2 separate regions of the Homo sapiens genome follow, and region 2 is linked to region 1. A link means that fine-mapping ties the variant in region 1 to the expression of a gene that starts in the linked region. Tissue or cell type: nasal epithelium. Region 1 holds a variant in brackets; the other region holds the start of a gene. All regions are shown on one strand. Distances are between the middles of the regions.

Region 1 (8,556 bases):
CAAAGATTGCAGTAAGCCGAGATTGCGCCACTGCACTCCAGCCTGGGAGACAGCGAGACTCTGTTTCAAACAACAACAACAAAAATATATGGGAGAACTAATGGAAGATAAGGGTTTCATGAGTAAGGTGTGTTTATGCAAACTGGTCTCAATGTCTTCTCCCTGTATCCAGTTATCAAAACGCTCTTCTGTTCTGGGGCAAGGAGAGAGTTACCTGTTTTGAGGGGAAATATATGCCTTATTTTTAGACAGGTGGGAGGACAGAGAGCTCTTCCCACATCTGCTATTTCTCAATTGCCTTCATCTCAAAAGAGTCAATATGCCAACGTGGCATGTTCTGGTTCCCTTCATGGTGACTGTTGTTGGTGTGATCTAACCCATTCTTTGAAATACTGGTGTTTCATAGAGCAATCAAGGGAACGATATGATAATGTGTGTTCTTTAGCGTGGTATGCTCAAGCCAATTCTTTTTTTTTTTTTTTAGATGGAGTCTCACTCTGTCACCCAGGCCAGAGTGCAGTGGTGCCATTAGGGCTCATTGCAGCCTTGAACTCCTGGGCTCAAGTGATCCTACTTCCTCAAGTGATCCTACTTCCTCAGCCTCCCTGCAGCTGAGACAGGTGCGCACCACCCCGCCTGGCTAATAGGTTTATTTTTTGTAGCAATAGGGACTTGCTATGTTACCCAGGCTGGTCTCAAACTCTTAGCCTCAAGTGATCTCACGTTTGCCTCTCAAAGTGCTGGGATTACAGGTGTGAGCCACCACACCCAGCCTTTTTGGTGTCTTTTGAAGAAACAGAAAAACTTCTGGCCAGGTGAAGCTGAGGCAGGAGGCCAAGGGATCCTTGGTGCAAGACCAACCTGGGCAACATAGCAAGACTGTTTCTACAAAAAATAAAAAGTATTAGTGGGGTGCAGTAGTGTGCACCTGTAGTCCCAGCTACCAGGAGGCTGAGGAAGGAGGATTGCTTGAACCCAGGAGTTTGAGGCTGCAGTGAGCCATGATCACACTACTGCACTCCAGCCTGGGTGACAGAGTAAGACCCTGTCTCAAAAACAAACAAACAAAAACCCAAAAAACCTTTTGATTGAGAAAGTCTTGCCTGTCTAACCCCAGACTTGTGAGAATCTGCTCCATATGTGCCTTATTCTCCTGTCTACCACACCCCACCCATCAAGTATGTGCTGTTTCTGCTATTTGCCTCCTTAATCAGGCACCCTGTCCTTCCAACTGTCATTAAAATGACACAGTTGTTTAGCCTTCCTTTTCAGTGACTACTGGGTCATGCTGGCATTGGTATTGTAATCTGAACTCTTAGAAAACCTGATCGTAATAGTCACAGTGTTAAAGATTAAACTACACTATCTCAATACAAACAAAGCACAACAGTTACTCCACAGGCAAAGGCAGAGCCAGACTGTCCATGCTCACAGTAACAAAGCATGTGAGTTGTGCACTGAAGTCCTATCATGCCCAGCAAGAATTATAGCAGCCCTTGTCCCTAATAATAATGTCTATTACTGGGAACTGCAAATCAGTATCAGTGGCCAATGACCATGGAAGGTGGACAGTCTGTGCACTAACCGCTTGACACCGAAACCAGTGTTGCTTTCAACCCCAATTTTTTGATTGCCATGCAAGTTTTGTACTTGACCTCAGTCTTCCACATTCATTGCTAAAAACTGGGACTTCTCATGTCCTGCAGAGGACTCTTGTGAAATGTGGAGCTTTAACTGCTAAAACCACACAGGCACAGGCCCTGTGAACAACAAACTTTCAGATATTTGTGGTAGAAATATATATTGGTGCAACTTTTCATTTTTCTTTCTTTTTTTTTTTTTTTTTTTTTGAGATGGAGTCTCGCTCTGCCGCCCAGGCAAGAGTGCAGCGGCACAATCTCAACTCACTGCAACCTCCATCTCCCGGGTTTAAGCGATTCTCCTGCCTCAGCCTCCTGAGTAGCTGGGATTACAGGTGCCCACCACCACACCCGGCTAATTTTTGTATTTTTAGTAGAGATGGGGCTTCACCACTGTTGGCCAGGCTGGTCTCAAACTCCTGACCTCAGGTGATCCTCCTACCTTGGGTTCCCAAACTGCTGGGATGACAGGCATGAGCCACCATTCCCAGCCTTGTGCAACTTGTCTGGAGAGCAACTTGAATGTGCATTTCAAGAGTCTTAAACATATTTATAACTTTGAGCCAGTAATTCCATTTTCAGGAAATTTATCCTAAGGAAATAATTAAGGAAGTTCCTAAACATTTATAATTATGGATAGTTGACTGGGTTTTTTTTATAACATTTGAAAATTGAAAATAGTTTAAATTTTCAACAGTAGGGAAATAAACTGTGACATATATGTAATATATTAAATTTTTTAACAATGGGATGCAGTCATTAAGTACAGTCCTTTTGTTTTATGTTGCATGCCCTTCTAATGAATAAATGCAGTCCTTTAAACTCATGTTTTTGTACCTTAAAACTTATTTATTTATTTTCCATGACAGAGTCTTGCTCTGTCGCCCAGGCTGGAGTGCAGTGGTGCAATCTCGGCTCACTGAAACCTCTGCCTCCCGGTTTAAGCAATTTCCTGCCTCAGCCTCCCCAGTAGCTGGGATTACAGGCACCTGGTACCACGCCCATCTAATTTTTATATTTTTAGTAGACAGGGTTTCACCATGTTGGCCAGGCTGGTCTTGAACTCCTGACCTTGTGATCTGCCCGCCTCGGCCTCCCAAAGTACTGGGATTACAGGTGTGAGTTACCGTGCCTAGCCAAAACTCATTTTAAAAAGTAACTTTAAGAAGCAGTTTACAGTGTGATCTAATTTTTTGTCAAACAATGCATGTATATGAATATATATACAGTATAAGAAAAAGAAAAACTAGAAAGAAACAATTCACACTGTTATATGTGAGTGGGAAGATTATGGCTCATTTTACTTTTTTATTATACTTTTCATATTTTCCCAATTTTCTGTAATCAACACTTTTTTTCTGGTGCTTTTTAAAAATAATCAAATAAAATGTTTTAGTACTGTCTGAAGGTTGAGTGATTGCTAACTGTGAACATGAAATTTTTGGAATTAGCAGTAAGGCTCATGCTGTAAGGAAATGACTTTTCCATTGCAGACTAGAATGGGATGCTGATGCTGAGATAAACCATGAGAAACAGAAAACTCCAGGCTGGGCACGGTGGCTCACGCCTGTAATCCAACACTTTGGGAGGCTGAGGCGAGGATTGTTTGAGCCCAGGAGTTCAAGACCAGCCTAGGCAGCCATAGTGCAACCCCATATCTACAGATAATAATAATAATAATAATAATAATAATAATAAATTAGCTGGGC[G/A]TGGTGGCATGTGCTTGTGGTCCCAGTTACTTAGGAGGCTGAAGAGGGAGCCTTGAGCCCAGGAAGTTGAGGCTGCAGTGAGCCACAATCGCACTACTACTCCAGCCTGGGTGACAGAGTGAGACCCTGCCTCAAAACAAACAAACAAACAACAAAAAATGGAAATAAGGGAACTCCACAAAGAAATTTACCAAAGGTTTCACCAAGATGTAGAGAATTACCCTATATTATTTATTGTTCTGACTTATATAAGTAACTTTAATTATAGAGTAAATTGCCCACAGTTCTCATTCCTTAGTGTAGATTTCCTCATTCTTTTTTTTTTTTTTGAAACAGTCTCGCTCTGTCACCCAGGCTAGAGTGCAATGGTGCGATCTCAGCTCACTGCAACCTCCGCTTCCTGGGTTCAAGTGATTCTTGTGCCTCAGCCTCCCCAGTAGCTGCAATTACAGGTGCACACCACCATGCTGGGCTAATTTTTTGTATTTTTAGTAGAGATGGGGTTTCACCATGTTGGCCAGGCTGGTCTCAAACTTCTGACCTCATATGATCTGCCCGCCTTGGCCTCCCAAAGTGCTAAGATTATAGGTGGGAGCCGCTGCACCCAACCGGATTCCCTCATTCTTGATGCATCTTTTAGTTGATTTTAATGTCTTGAGTTCCCCTGAACAGACTGTGAACTCGGTGGCTCTCAGCTGACAACTGCAGAAGGGATGTAGTGAGCTGATGTGAGAGGTAGCACCTGCTTCTACAATGGGACTTGTGGCTGTGTCCTGCGAGTCTGTTACACTGGCATGACTCAAGGCAAGGAGGGACAAGATGATGAGTCTCAAGTCTACTGCAGGGACATTCATTAAGAGCATGGCCTTCCCAGACAAGTGGTGCAAGCCTTGTATTAGGGAACTGTATACATGTTGAATCCTTGTCACCTGTAACTCTTGCCTACTCCGTAGTCCAACATGGTTCCTTTGATTCTGAAATCTCATTCTTGCTCTGACTATAGAAGTAATTGTGCTTTTCTATTTGGGTTTCTTGTGCCACATGTGATAAAATAGGGGAAAGCAAAAAAGGAGGCAGGAATAGATGAGTAGCAGAAACCATGATATCAAAATGGGAAGATGGTGGGTTTTGCACAGTCTACTGGAATACCCCATGCATTATCCTCAGGTTCCTAAGACACCAAAGAGAAGGTAAATTGTGGCCAGGTACTGTGGCTCATGTCTGTAATCTCAGCACTTTGGGAGGATGAGGTGGGAGGATCACTTGAGTCCAGGAGTTTGAGACCAGCCTGGGCAACATAGCAAGACCCTGTCCCTATTAAAAAAAAGAAAAGGAAAGGAAAGGTAAATTGTGTTGGATCAACCCAAAAGACTGCCCCCCCTTTCCCTAGATTAACTTATTCCAAATTTCTCTCTTCCTTGTTTTTCAATGTTCAGTTCATCACCTAGTCCTTTATCAGAAGAGTAAGCGGAAGCTGGTGACCTGTAAGGCTCCAGTGGCTGAGGTTGGGGGCTGGTGGGGGCGAGGCAGTTTAGAACTGCAAAATGAAAGCTCCAGTTTGCAAAAGCTAAGAAACTAGAACCTATCAAGCTGGCACTCAGGGGATGCAGCACCAAGGACCAAAGAAAAATAATCACCACCATTCTGGGACCATCAAGGAGCCCAGACAACATGAAATTCCAGCCCCAGCCAAGGGGTGACTAGGTCACCGAAAGTCTGAAACTGGTTCTCTATCCAGGATGTTATCAGTAAACCATAAACCGGATCAAGAATCCAGGAAGTTATGAGGGCGGGTCAAGGTGTGTTTGTGGCCTGATTTGAAGACAAGGCTTGTTTGCTTTAGAAGGTACGTCTGTATAATTGCTCCAGGGCAGGAACTGGGGTGAGTTCGGCCTATCCCAGACAAATGGGGCCCAGGAGGAAGAACCTGAGAACTGTGTGGCTGCAGATGAGCCGACAGACGAAGGCTCAGGTGTGAAGAAACAGAGGTGACAACAGTGCCACTCAACGCTGGCTGCACATTTGACTCACCTGGGAGCTTTAAAAAAAAAAAAAAAAAAATCCCAGTGTTCAGCCACGCCCCAGACCAATTAGATTGGAATTTCTGGGGGTTGGGCCCAGGCGCTGGTGTGTTTTTAAAGGCCCGAGGTGATTTTAATGTGCAGCCGGGACTGGGTGCCACTGGATTATCGGTAGGTTTTCAGAGCTGCTAAGAAGTTCATTCTGATGGATTCATTTTCTTGTGACTGGCTAGTAATTACAAAATAAGCTTTACAAAAATAGTGTTGAAAGAAACATTCAAACAATCCTAAATGTGCTTTTTAAACAGAGATAAAATAAATCCTCTTAGACTTCACCACTATACAATTCATCCATGTAACCAAAAACCACTTGTACCCCCAAAACTATTAATAATTACAACTATATATATATTTTTTCAAAGGTCTATATGCCAAGGCAAATCTAAAAAATGAAATAAGAAAATAAATTATCAATAAAGCTCCTTCTAGCTTTAAAAGGAAAAAAAAGTTCTACTTAAGCTAAGGAGTTGGGGTTTTATCCACATGGAGCAGGACCCTGGAAGATTTTTTAATTAATTAATTCATTCATTATGAGACAGGGTCTCGCTATGTTGCCCAGGCTGGTCTTGAACTCCTGAGCTCAAGGAATCCTTCTGCCTCAGCCTCCAGGTAGCTGGGGCCACAAGTGCGTACCACCATGCCCAGCTTCTAGGAGATTTTGATCAGAAGAGTGATGGAAAAAAAGTGAAAATGTAGGAAGAGTGATCAGACATTGAGGTATAATGTAGTCAATTTTGTTCTAAGGCAAACATTTATTAATAATAGTGGCTTAGCTGGGCGTGGTGGTACATGCCTGTGGTCCCAGCTACTTGGGAGGCTGAGGCAGGAGGATTGCTTGAGCCCAGGAGATAGAGACTGTAGTAGTGAGCCATGTCCAGTCACTGCCCTCCAGTCACTGCCACTGGGTGGCAGAGCGAGACCCTGCCTCAAAAAAAAAAAAAAAAAAAAAAAAAGTGCCGGAACAGTGGCCCACACCTGAAATCCCAGCACTTTGGGAGGCCGAGGCAGGAGGATCACTTCAGGTTAGGATTTCAAGACCAGCCTGGCCAACATAGCGAAACCTTGTCTCTACTAAAAATACAGAAATTAGCCAGGTGTGGTGGTGGGCACCTGTAATCCCAGCTACTCAGGAGGCTGAGGCAGGAGAATCACTTGAACCTGGGAGGTGGAGGTTGCAGTGAGCTGAGATCATGCCACTACACTCCAGCCTGGGTCACAGAGCCAGACTCCGTCTCAAAAACAAACAAACAAACAAACAAACAAAATAGTGACTAGCATTTATTGAAGAAAGCCCTGTGACAGTAACGGTCTTATTCAGCTCTGCCTTTTTTTTTTGAGACAGGGTCTCACTCTGTCACCTAGGCTGGAGTGCAGTGGTGTGATCATAGGTTACTCCAACCTTTGCCTCCCAGGATCAAGCGATCCTCCCACCTCAGCCTCCCAAGTAGCTGGGATTACAGGTGCCCGCCACCACGCCCAGCTAATTTTTTGTTTTTTGATAGAGATGGGGTTTCGCTATGTTGACCAGGCTGGTCTCAAACTCCTGACCTCGTGATCCGCCTGCCTCAGCCTCCCAAAGTGCTGGGATTATAGGCATGAGCCACCGAGCCCGGCCAAGTTACCTGATTTTCTAAGCTGCGTCTGGAGTACATGGAGGTGGAAAACAAGACTTTCCCATGTACCAGCTATGAGCCAAGTACTATTCTAGGCACTTTCACTTGCATGACTTCATTTAATGACAAACATTTGTATTTTTAAAATCTTTGGTCCTATTTATAAGTTAAAACTCTTTGAGAAGAAACCAATCCTTGGGAAGGCTATGGTTAATTTCAGCCTTATGGTAGCTGAAAGAAAAAATAAGGTTTCAGGGTTCCAGCTTAGGGTTTCAAGGAATGAAGCTCTGTATGGTGAGTCTTCTCAGCCTTTGAGAAGACTTATTGTACAGTTGTGTGGGACAGAATGGCACCACCTAGTACTTGATGTGTATCTGTGGAGAAACACACTTAGACGACTTAGAGCTAGGATTATGTCATTGTCAACACCAATGGCACGAAAATTCCCCCAGTCCCCGGAGGAGCTGAACAACAGCTGAGGTGATCAAATCTCTGATGGCCTCCACAGATGGACTCCTTCCAATATGGTGCCAGGATCATCCAAGAGGACAGCTGCCTTCCCACTGGATCCTGAGCAGGACTTGCGGGTTGGCTCACTGCTGAGGGCTGGCCCGAGGGATGTCAGAAGTCCAAGGACAGGAAAGCAACGTTCACGTGAGCTTTTTCCACCTTCCTTCTGTGAAGGGAGCCTGTGACTGAATAGAAGCCATGCTTAAAGTATCATTGTTTTAAAAGCTAATGTTGCTGTGTGGCTCTGAAACACGACTTGCCAACGAGCCCTCTCACAGGTGTTCATCTTGCTTATTCAGAAATGAATATTTCACAGCTTCCTGCCCTGGAAATTGGCTTCCACCCAACTGAATGAGTCACACACTTGTGGATAAGCTCTCTTGGGTAATTCTTCTTTAAAACTTTTTTTCTTACGGTAAAATGTACACAACGTAAAATTGACCTTTTTAACCTTTTATTTTTGAGACCAGGTCTCACTCTGTTGCCCAGGCTGGAGTGCAGTTATGCGGTCACGGCTCACCTCACTGCAGCCTCAACCTCCCAGGCTCAAGTAATCCTCCCACCCCAGCCTCCCGAATATCTGGACCACAGACATGCACCACCATATGTGGCTAATTTTTTTATTTTTATTTTTTGTGGAGACAAGGTCTTGCTATGTTGCCGAGGCTGGTCTTGAACTCCTGGCTCAAGTTATCCTCCCGCCTCAGACTCCCAAAGTGCTGGGATTACAGGCATAAGCCACCACATCCAGCCCATTTTAACCATTTTTAAGTGTATAGTTCAGTGATACTAAGTATAAAATATTTTTTAAGGTGCTTTATACCCTGAACTGAAAGATTTGACTACCCTTTGTCATGCCTAGTTTCTAAACTGTTGTTCTTGAAAGCTCCAAGTCATTCTAGAACCCAAGAGTCCTGCCATCAGAAGGGACTTTTAAAGGGTTTTTTTTTTTTTTTTTTTTTTTTTGTATCTATCTTATCCTGGAAAGGAAGGTCCATGCTTT
Region 2 (8,556 bases), 24 kb before region 1:
TGGGCAACAGAGGGAGACCCTGTCTCAAAAAAAATAAATAAATAAAAACAAAGAAACCAACCAACAAACAAAAAACAGGAGATTTGGGGAAAAGAATTTAAAAGTATACCTTCTTCTCAAAATGCCTCTGGCCCTATGTGCATATATCCAAATTTCAGTCACTGAGTTGACAGTAGAAACAAAACAATGTTGTAATACATGTGTGTCTCATTCACCATTAGCATGTCAAGCAGATGCTGACAAAACAAGTATCTTCTGTTTTAGCAAATACTGCCAGAAATTTCCATCCACGGTCCTCCTTGGCTCCACATCTGTCAGTGATCTCTCTGAGAATACTGAAGAATCACCAATGACCCCAGGGGTCAAAGCCACCTTCTCCTGTCCCTTCATTTCCTAAGGGTCACCTCTATCTTCACTGACTACCAGCATCTTCTAAGCTTCCTCGCACTTGCTGGGTTTTTCCTTTGCCTGTTGATTCACAGCTGCTTAATTTTGACCGACTTCCTTATGCTTCCCATTCACAAGGCTTCATTTTCAGCAAGCGCTTTTAAATCCTGCCCAGCTATGCCAGAAATCGGTCATCTACTGAAGCTTCCAATCTTGCTTTGGGATCTAGCAATCTTTCCCCGTTGTGTTTGTGTCCAAGCCCCATACAAGGTCCCAAGAAGCAAAACAGAGTGCGTGGACCAGCCACCCTAGGTCCGGACTTCTGGCCTGGCTGCTTTCAGGGCTTCCTGCAATCCACCTGACCTTTCCTGTCCCATCATTCTCTAGCTATCCTCACAGAATCTCCATTCTGGCAGGCAGATCTCATCTCTGCTGCCTAAACCTGCTTTACTCATTCTAGTCTCTGTGTCCTCACTCTCAGGCCATACTTCCTCCTCAAAGAATACATGCCATCCCCTCTCCCGTGCTCACATCATAAGCTTCCTCCCTGGAAGTCCAACCAAAGTTCACCCTCCTCAGTGAAGTCTAAACTCCTCTCGATTCCCTTATTTCCCTGTCATTCACCTGGCACTTAGTAACTAGCAGCCTGCTACAGCTGTTTACCTTTTAATCTAATCTTTTCACAGGCATTTTCTTTTCAAGCCCATGACAGTCATTTCCTCACAGGCATGAACCATAAAGCATGCTTTAAGAAACTGAATATGATGGTAACAGGCAACCCTAAGAAAACTTTTAGGAAGTAAAATCCCCCTAACAAGAACAATCAATTTCACTTTTTCATGTTTCTTTCTAGCTCTTGCCCATTCCTGTATACATTTTTACATAGTAATAATAATAGATTTGATCAGTTACACGTACAGCTTTACATTCTTTTTCCACTAACAGAGAAAACGATCTTCCTTGTTAAATGGTTTTGACTGTCATCATTTTAATCGCTGTATAATAGTCCCTCCATTGAGATACTAGATCATGATTACCAAGGCACTGACTCTACATTGACTCTATTAGACATTATTACATACTTCTGTGTCTTTCACCACATCAAGTATTGGAAAATGCCAAGTAAACTCATTTGAAATATCTCCTGAAATAAATTTCTTGTCCATTCTCCCTAACACCTGAAATAATCTATTTCACTGTTTCTATCTTCATTTCTTTCGTTTCCCGGTTCTACCCCCTTAGGCTAGGTAGGTAACAAAGGTATTCCAAACACCTTTTATAGATATTTACTTATTTTGGTAGTTGATCTTATACAGATTTACACACAGGAAATCCCTTGAGGAAAAGCATTAAGATCTCATCCTATCTAATATAAGCCAGATACCTGGCAGGCACTCAATCAATGTTTGCTTACCTATTAAATGTTTTTTAAGCCACCTAAAGTTAGAAAACATCAAATTCCTGGAAAGGAGAATGTTGCTGATCTAACTAATCCCACCAATTACGGCTACAGAACTTTCAGCTCCTGTAATGATTAGACGGGTTAATAATGTATGAATGGGTGTTCTGTGCGGCACATGGAAGCACACAAGAATTATCTGTTTAGCTGTACAGTCTGAACAACAACACTGGAAAACAAACGATATCTGCAAATAGAACTTGAAGATCTTGTGACAAAAATTTACCCTTTTCTCTAGTTGTTTAGCTTTGCATCTCAGATGAAGAAAGGCAAAATAAAGGTTGTAATATTAAAATTATGTAAAATTACATACACGTGTGAGCACAAACTGGCATGGAAATGAAAAGCTGTTAGGATGAAGAAAGTATGTGAACTTTTTTCTTTTTCTTTTTCCTTTTGTTAGTGGAATGTTAAAATAAATGTATGACTAGACAAATATTTCTGACAAATTAGCCATTACAACTCTTCCTGTTACTGAATTAGGGCCTAATGCTTAACCTTCAAATAACTAAGGTTCCCAAACCCACATACAGTTTAGCAGAAAGACTAAAATACTCTCACTTCGAGGATAACTGTTAAATAATAAATCAGCTAACCACCTTAAAACTCCAAACACCTAAGCACAACCACTGAATCACACAAGAACTTAATACACCAGAGTTTTCTGGAAATTTTCAGATTTTCCTCAAAAGATAGCTAATGTGATTCCAAATATCAGAGTCTACACAGTAAAACTACATCATCACAGTAACCCATTCTCATCCCCGTCCTCTTTTATAGATAGCGATTTATAAGGTTGCTTCCGGCACCTATATGATAGAAACTATTAGGACTCAAGTTTTACTCTTTGTCATAATTATACAGTATTACATAATACTAATAACTGTTCAAAGTAATATTCTTTTCAAAATTACTGGAAAGGTTCCTACAGATCATACAAGGAAGAAAAAAAAGGAAATTACTGGAAAGAAATATGGTTTTGTTTTAGTCTTTTTTTTTTTTGAGACAGAGTTTCACTCTTGTCGCCCAGGGTGGAGCACAGTGGCACGATCTTGGCTCACTGCAACCTCCGCCTCCTGGGTTCAGGCTATTCTCCCGCCTCAGCCTCCTTAGTAGCTGGGATTACAGGCGTCCACCACCACGCCCGGCTAATTTTTTGTATTTTTAGTAGAGACAGGGTTTTGCCATGTTAGGCAGGCTGGTCTCGAACTCCTGACCTCAGGTGATCCACCCGCCTCGGCCTCCCAAAGTGCTGGGATTATAAGCGTAAGCCACCGTGCCTGGCCTGTTTTAGTCTTTTTATACAAACTTTGGACACCAATTTTTAAAAATCACTGGATTTACAATCCCACCACACTGTATTCCATAATAACCTTTATATTTATGTGAACAATTACTTCATAACAAAAATGGAAAAGAACAAATTTATGTGTGGTAATCACTGAAAAAAGAAGTCCACATGCACGTCAGGAAATATAAGGCTAAGAATGGGCACTAAGTGAACACAGGAGGTACTTTACACCAAATAATGCACTTCTCTATATAGGCTAATGGAATCTATGGGTAAACCTCAATTTCAAAATGATTGTTGAACCCAAGGATCAGCTCACATCCGTTCCACAGCTAAAACTATTATTCTTTGCCTTCCTCTAAACTCTGATGTTTATTACAACCTTATCAATGGCAATTTATAAGAGAAAAGCATAAGAATTTCCCTCAAAAAGTGAAACCAATGGGGAAAGGGAGAGGGAAAGGGCTCTAAATATCTGAGATGTCTTTTGTGGTGGTTGGTTAGCGGCCTCTTTTTAGCACTGACATTTCCAAGTTTTTTGTGAAAAGGAAATTTTAAGAATGTGCTGAAACCATCCTTTCAGAATCAATTCCCAGATAAGTTATGTTTCATTTGGCTTCTTTCTTTAAATTATTGTGATGGTAAACTGGAAGTAAACTGAAATACAGATACCTGAATATTTAAAAACTGATGCTTCTGAAAATTTTCAGAATTGTATCGACGTTTATTGTGTGTTGTCAGAGCACGAGATTAGTGAAGCAAAGCAGGACTCAATCTTGCACTAGTTGAGAACTTAAAGTAATTAAGTTCTTAGGGAAAAAAACTCACCTGACAGCTTTAATCGGACCTAGCAGGAACAGGACAAAACAATTCCCATAGATGAGATAACTCCAAGCGAGAAACCAATTTCCCCGAGAAGGACAAACCAACAAAGCTTATGTCAACTGGTTGATCTGTATGTCTCAATATATACAAAAGAAAGCAAAGAAGAGGAAAACAACCTATAATTTCTACATAAAAATTAAACAACACTTGATTTTGCTAAGAAGCTACAACTTTGTCTCTGGTACTTAAATGATTCTAATTAGTTCAAAGTCTCATCAATGGCAAAGTCATCTCCTGAGACAGTAATAGTGACCCCCAATGACAGGACCTTGTATATAAAGCGTTTTCAAACACATTATCTTATTTAAAGCAACTCACCCAGTCATGCTGCTTTGACTATCAAAGCCAAGACCCAGCCCACCTCCTCCCCTGACTTTTGGGGTTCTCTCCACTCCCCGGGTCTACAGATTATTTAAATGTACTCGGTTTATCTGCCTTCTCTACACTCCCTGCAGAGTTAAGAGAATGTCAGAAAGATACAATTCCACAAGAATCTTGGCACTTTAGCTATTTATTGAGAGATGATGAATGAGACTTCAGGCAAAACCAAAACTTTCTCAACTGTCCAAAAACAACGAAAAGGGCATCTCCTCCACCTGACCCCAATCTCAGGACGCCCAGGTGGAAGGAACTCGCCGCGGGGCACCCGCCTGGCCCCCTGCCCTTCTTCCCGCCGCGGGCCAAGGCGGTGCAGGCTTGGGCGACCCGGGCGAGACGCGGGGTCCCGGGGGGTCCCGGGCGGTCCCGAGGCGGGCTGCAGGGGCTGGCGACCCGCGCGCGGGGGCGACGATGACAGCTGGCGGGGAAGGAGCGAGGCTGAGGGGCCAGGACGAGGCTGGGCGCGAGGGCCGAGGGCGCCCTCGGGAACCTCCGGGGGAGACGAGAGGGCAAAAGGGCGCAGGGGCGGGGCGGGCGCAGGCGGAAGGGGCAGCGGGGCCGGCACGAGGGGCCCGACGGCGCCAGGGACGGGGCTGGCCAGGGGGGAAGGGAGGGGAGAAGAGGGAGCCGGGCGTCTCAGCGCGGGAGCGGGTTTCAGGGTCCCCGGGCCCCTCCTCGCGCCCCGCCGCTGACTATAGGGGCGGGGCCGCCGGACCCCCCACGGCGGCCGAGGGAAGGGCGCGCCAGGCACCTGCCGCCTCCGCCCCGGCGGCCCAGGAGGGCTCGGCTCTCACCTCGCCGGTTCATGGGTCGTATCCGCACCGCCACTTTCACTTTGGAGTCCCCCATCCTGCAGCCGCCGAGGAACTCGTTCGGCTTCCGTCTGCCGCGGCCACCGGCGACTCTTCGGGGTTGACCCGGCGGGAGGGGGCCGGGGGCGGAGCCGGGGGTGGGGACCGGGCTGGGGGCGGGGCCGGCGCGAGCTCCGGGCGCTCCCCGCTGTATGGCGGGACTTGTAGTTCCCCAGGGTCGTCGTGGGCGGGGCCGCAGCGAAGGCGGGGGCGGGAATGCTCGGGCGCGAGTCGTTTGCTACAACTTACCTACAGCAATGACGGCTTTTGTAAATTACACACCATTCTTGCTCTCGCAGCCAGTATTGAGAAGTAAGCCTTCAAGAGCTGATACCTCTTCTGAAAAACAATTGAATAGATGGCGTCAGGGACCCCGCTACCTCTTCCTGCTCATTTCCTGCCAATCTTAGTGTTTGATCCCTGGCTCAAGTTATTTCCTCTGCCTGGATTGACGTCCGGCCTTGTTTGCTGAGCTCGTCCTTCACGACAAGTTGCAAATCACGTTTTCTGGGAGTGTCCATAGGTCCACGGGTTAACATTGTCCTGTGAGTCCCCCTCCTTTGAGACAGGACCTTGGGCTCTGAAAACCATCTGAGTTCAAAGCCCACCTCAGCGCTTCCCACTGTGTGACCAGGGGCAAGTTATTTGACCGCTCTGGGCTTGTCTTTAATATGAAAAGTGGATATGATACTAATACCTAGTAAAATAGGTACATTTTTAAATAAGATTAACATATGTGTAACCTAGCCTTTAGTAGAGACCCATAAACATTAATTGCATGAATTAATGAATGAGGCCACACTAAAATTAGCTTTTTATTAGCCCTGGCAGACATTCTAACAGGTGGCCTGGGTGCCAGAGCCAGCACGCAAACATGTTCTGTTTGGCCCAACAGTGTTGGCCAACACATAAAAATCAGATTTGTGGCCAGGTGCAGGGGCTCACACCTGGAATCCCAGCATTTTAGGATGCTGAGGCAGGAGGATTGCTTGAGGCCAGGAGTTTGAGACCAGCTTGGGTAACAGAGTGTGAAATCAGATTTGTGCATGCAGTACTGGGCCTACATTACATATTGGACAGAGTGGATTGGAACTAAATAGCAGCAGCCACCTTTATCAGAGACCCGTCTCTCCACTTCACCACGGCCCCCCTCCAGGTGGCTTTACCACACATGCGCCTGGACCTTGTGGGTTTGTGACCCCTGCTTAGATGTGTTTAAATGATAGTAATAGAACTCAGAACCATTTTACAGATGAGTAAATACAGAAAGCTGGTAAGACTTGCCCTTTTACCAACCATCCTGTTATTGAGTATCTTCAATACAAGCAATGTTGTCAAAAAGTATAAAAATACTTTTTTTTTTTTGAGATGGATCTAGCTCTGTCACCCAGGCTGGAGTACAGTGGCATGATCTCGGCTCACTGCAACCTCCACCTCCTGGCTTCAAGCGACTCTCATGCCTCAACCTCGACAGTAGCTGGGATTACAGGCATGTGCCACCAATCCTGGCTAATTTTCATATTTTTAGTAGAGACGTAGTTTTGCCATGTTGACCAGGCTGGTCTCGAACTCCTGACCTCAGGTGATCCACCCACCTCAGTCTCCCAAAGTGCTGGGATTACAGGCATAAGCCACTGTGTCCGGTCTAAAAATACCTTTAAAAGAAAGGAAATTCTGAAACATGCTGCAACATGGATGATGGGCCTTGAAAACATTATGCTAGGTGAAATAAGCCAGACACAAAAGAACAACCACTGCATGGTTCTACATATATGAGATACACATGGTAGTCAAATTCATGGAGATAGAAAGTAGACTGGAGGTTACTAAGGGCTAGGAGAAGGGGGTATGAGGAGTTAGTATTCAATGGGTGCAGAGATTCGGCTTGGGAAGATTTCAGCTGCGGAAATGAATGGTGGTGATGGTTGCACAACAATGTAAATGTACTTAACGCCACCTAACCACTTAAGAGTGGTTAAGGCAGTAAGGTTTTTTGGGTTTTTTTAGAGACAGGATCTCGCTCTGTTTGCCCAGACTGGAGTGCAGTGGTGTGATCATAGCTCACTGCAGCCTCAAACTCCTGGGCTCAAGCGATTTTCCTGCTTCAGCCTCTCACCTAGATGGAATTACAGGTACGCACCACGACACCTAGCTAATTTTTATATTTCATTTTTTGGTAGAGATGGAGTCTCGCTATGTTGTCCAGGCTGGTCTTGAACTCTTGGCCTCAAGTAATCCTCCTCACTTCAGCCTCCCAAAGCACTAGGATTACAGGTGTGAGCCATTACACCCAGCCAAGATGGTAAGCTTTTTGTTGTTGTTTGTTTGTTTGTTTGAGATGGAGTCTTGCTCTGTCGCCCAGGCTGGAATGCAGTGAGTGACATGATCTCTGCTCACTGCAGTCTCTGCCTCCTGGGTTCAAGTGATTCTCCTGCCTCAGCCTCCAGAGTGACTGGGATTACAGGTGTGCACCATCACACACAGCTAATTTTTATATTTTTAATAGAGATGGGGATTCACCATGTTGGCCAGGCTGGTCTCAAACTCTTGACCTCAAGTGATCCACCCACCTCAGCCCCCCCAAAATGCTGGGATTACAGGTGTGAGCCACTGTGCCTGGCCAATAGTAAGTTTTATGTTACGTGTTTTTTATCAAAATTTCAAAAAAGGTTAAAAATAGAAAATGCTACCCCAGAAGGCCCTCTTTTTTAAAAAAGGAAATTTCTTTCTTAGGGGCACTGCCTCTGCACTTCAGGAGGTCTCATCTAGACCAGCAGTGGGTTTAGTGCAGCAGGTCCTTTGATTTTCACAGCCCAATAAAGTAAACAACATCAGGATAACCAAATTAGGATTGCCAATCTCAGTGTTTGACACTATGACAGCTTCTTAATTTTAGCAAGTATATATTTTTTTGAGACAGGGTCTCATTCTGTGCCCAGGCTGGAGTGCAGTGGCACCATCTTAGCTCACTGCAGCCTCAACCTCCCAGGCTCAAGCGATCCTCCCACCTTAGCCTCCCAAGTAGCTGGGACTACAAGCATGCACCACCATGCCCAGCTGATTTTTAAATTTTTTGTAGAAACAGTGTCTCGCTATGTTACCCACTCTGGTCTTGAACCCATGACCTCAAGTGATCCTCCCACCTCAGCCTCCCAAAGTGTTGGAATTACAGGTGTGAGCCATTGTGCTAGGTCACCGAGTAAATTATTTGAAAAAGAATGCACACAAAAATTACTATCTACCATCACTATCTTTTTTTTTTTTTAAAAAAGATCATAAAGGGTATGATTTTATATTGAAATTGT

The links. PIP is the estimated chance that this variant, and not a neighbour inherited with it, causes the effect.
Region 2: KIF13B starts here. The variant in region 1 is fine-mapped to the expression of KIF13B in nasal epithelium (TOPMed, PIP above 0.99).

The regions. Positions count from the first base shown.
Region 1 is chr8:29,281,811-29,290,366 of GRCh38, forward strand. LOC124901922 (a long non-coding RNA gene) reads right to left here. Exons shown (of 3, transcript XR_007060874.1): 3 at 6,163-7,738. Among named protein-coding and RNA genes, the nearest start is that of KIF13B, 23 kb to the left of the region's middle. The variant G/A (reference allele first, on the strand shown) is at 3,350.
Region 2 is chr8:29,257,786-29,266,341 of GRCh38, forward strand. It overlaps KIF13B (kinesin family member 13B), which reads right to left and starts at 5,285. Exons shown (of 40, transcript NM_015254.4): 1 at 5,195-5,285. The coding sequence starts at 5,249. RefSeq lists a silencer at 4,663-5,492.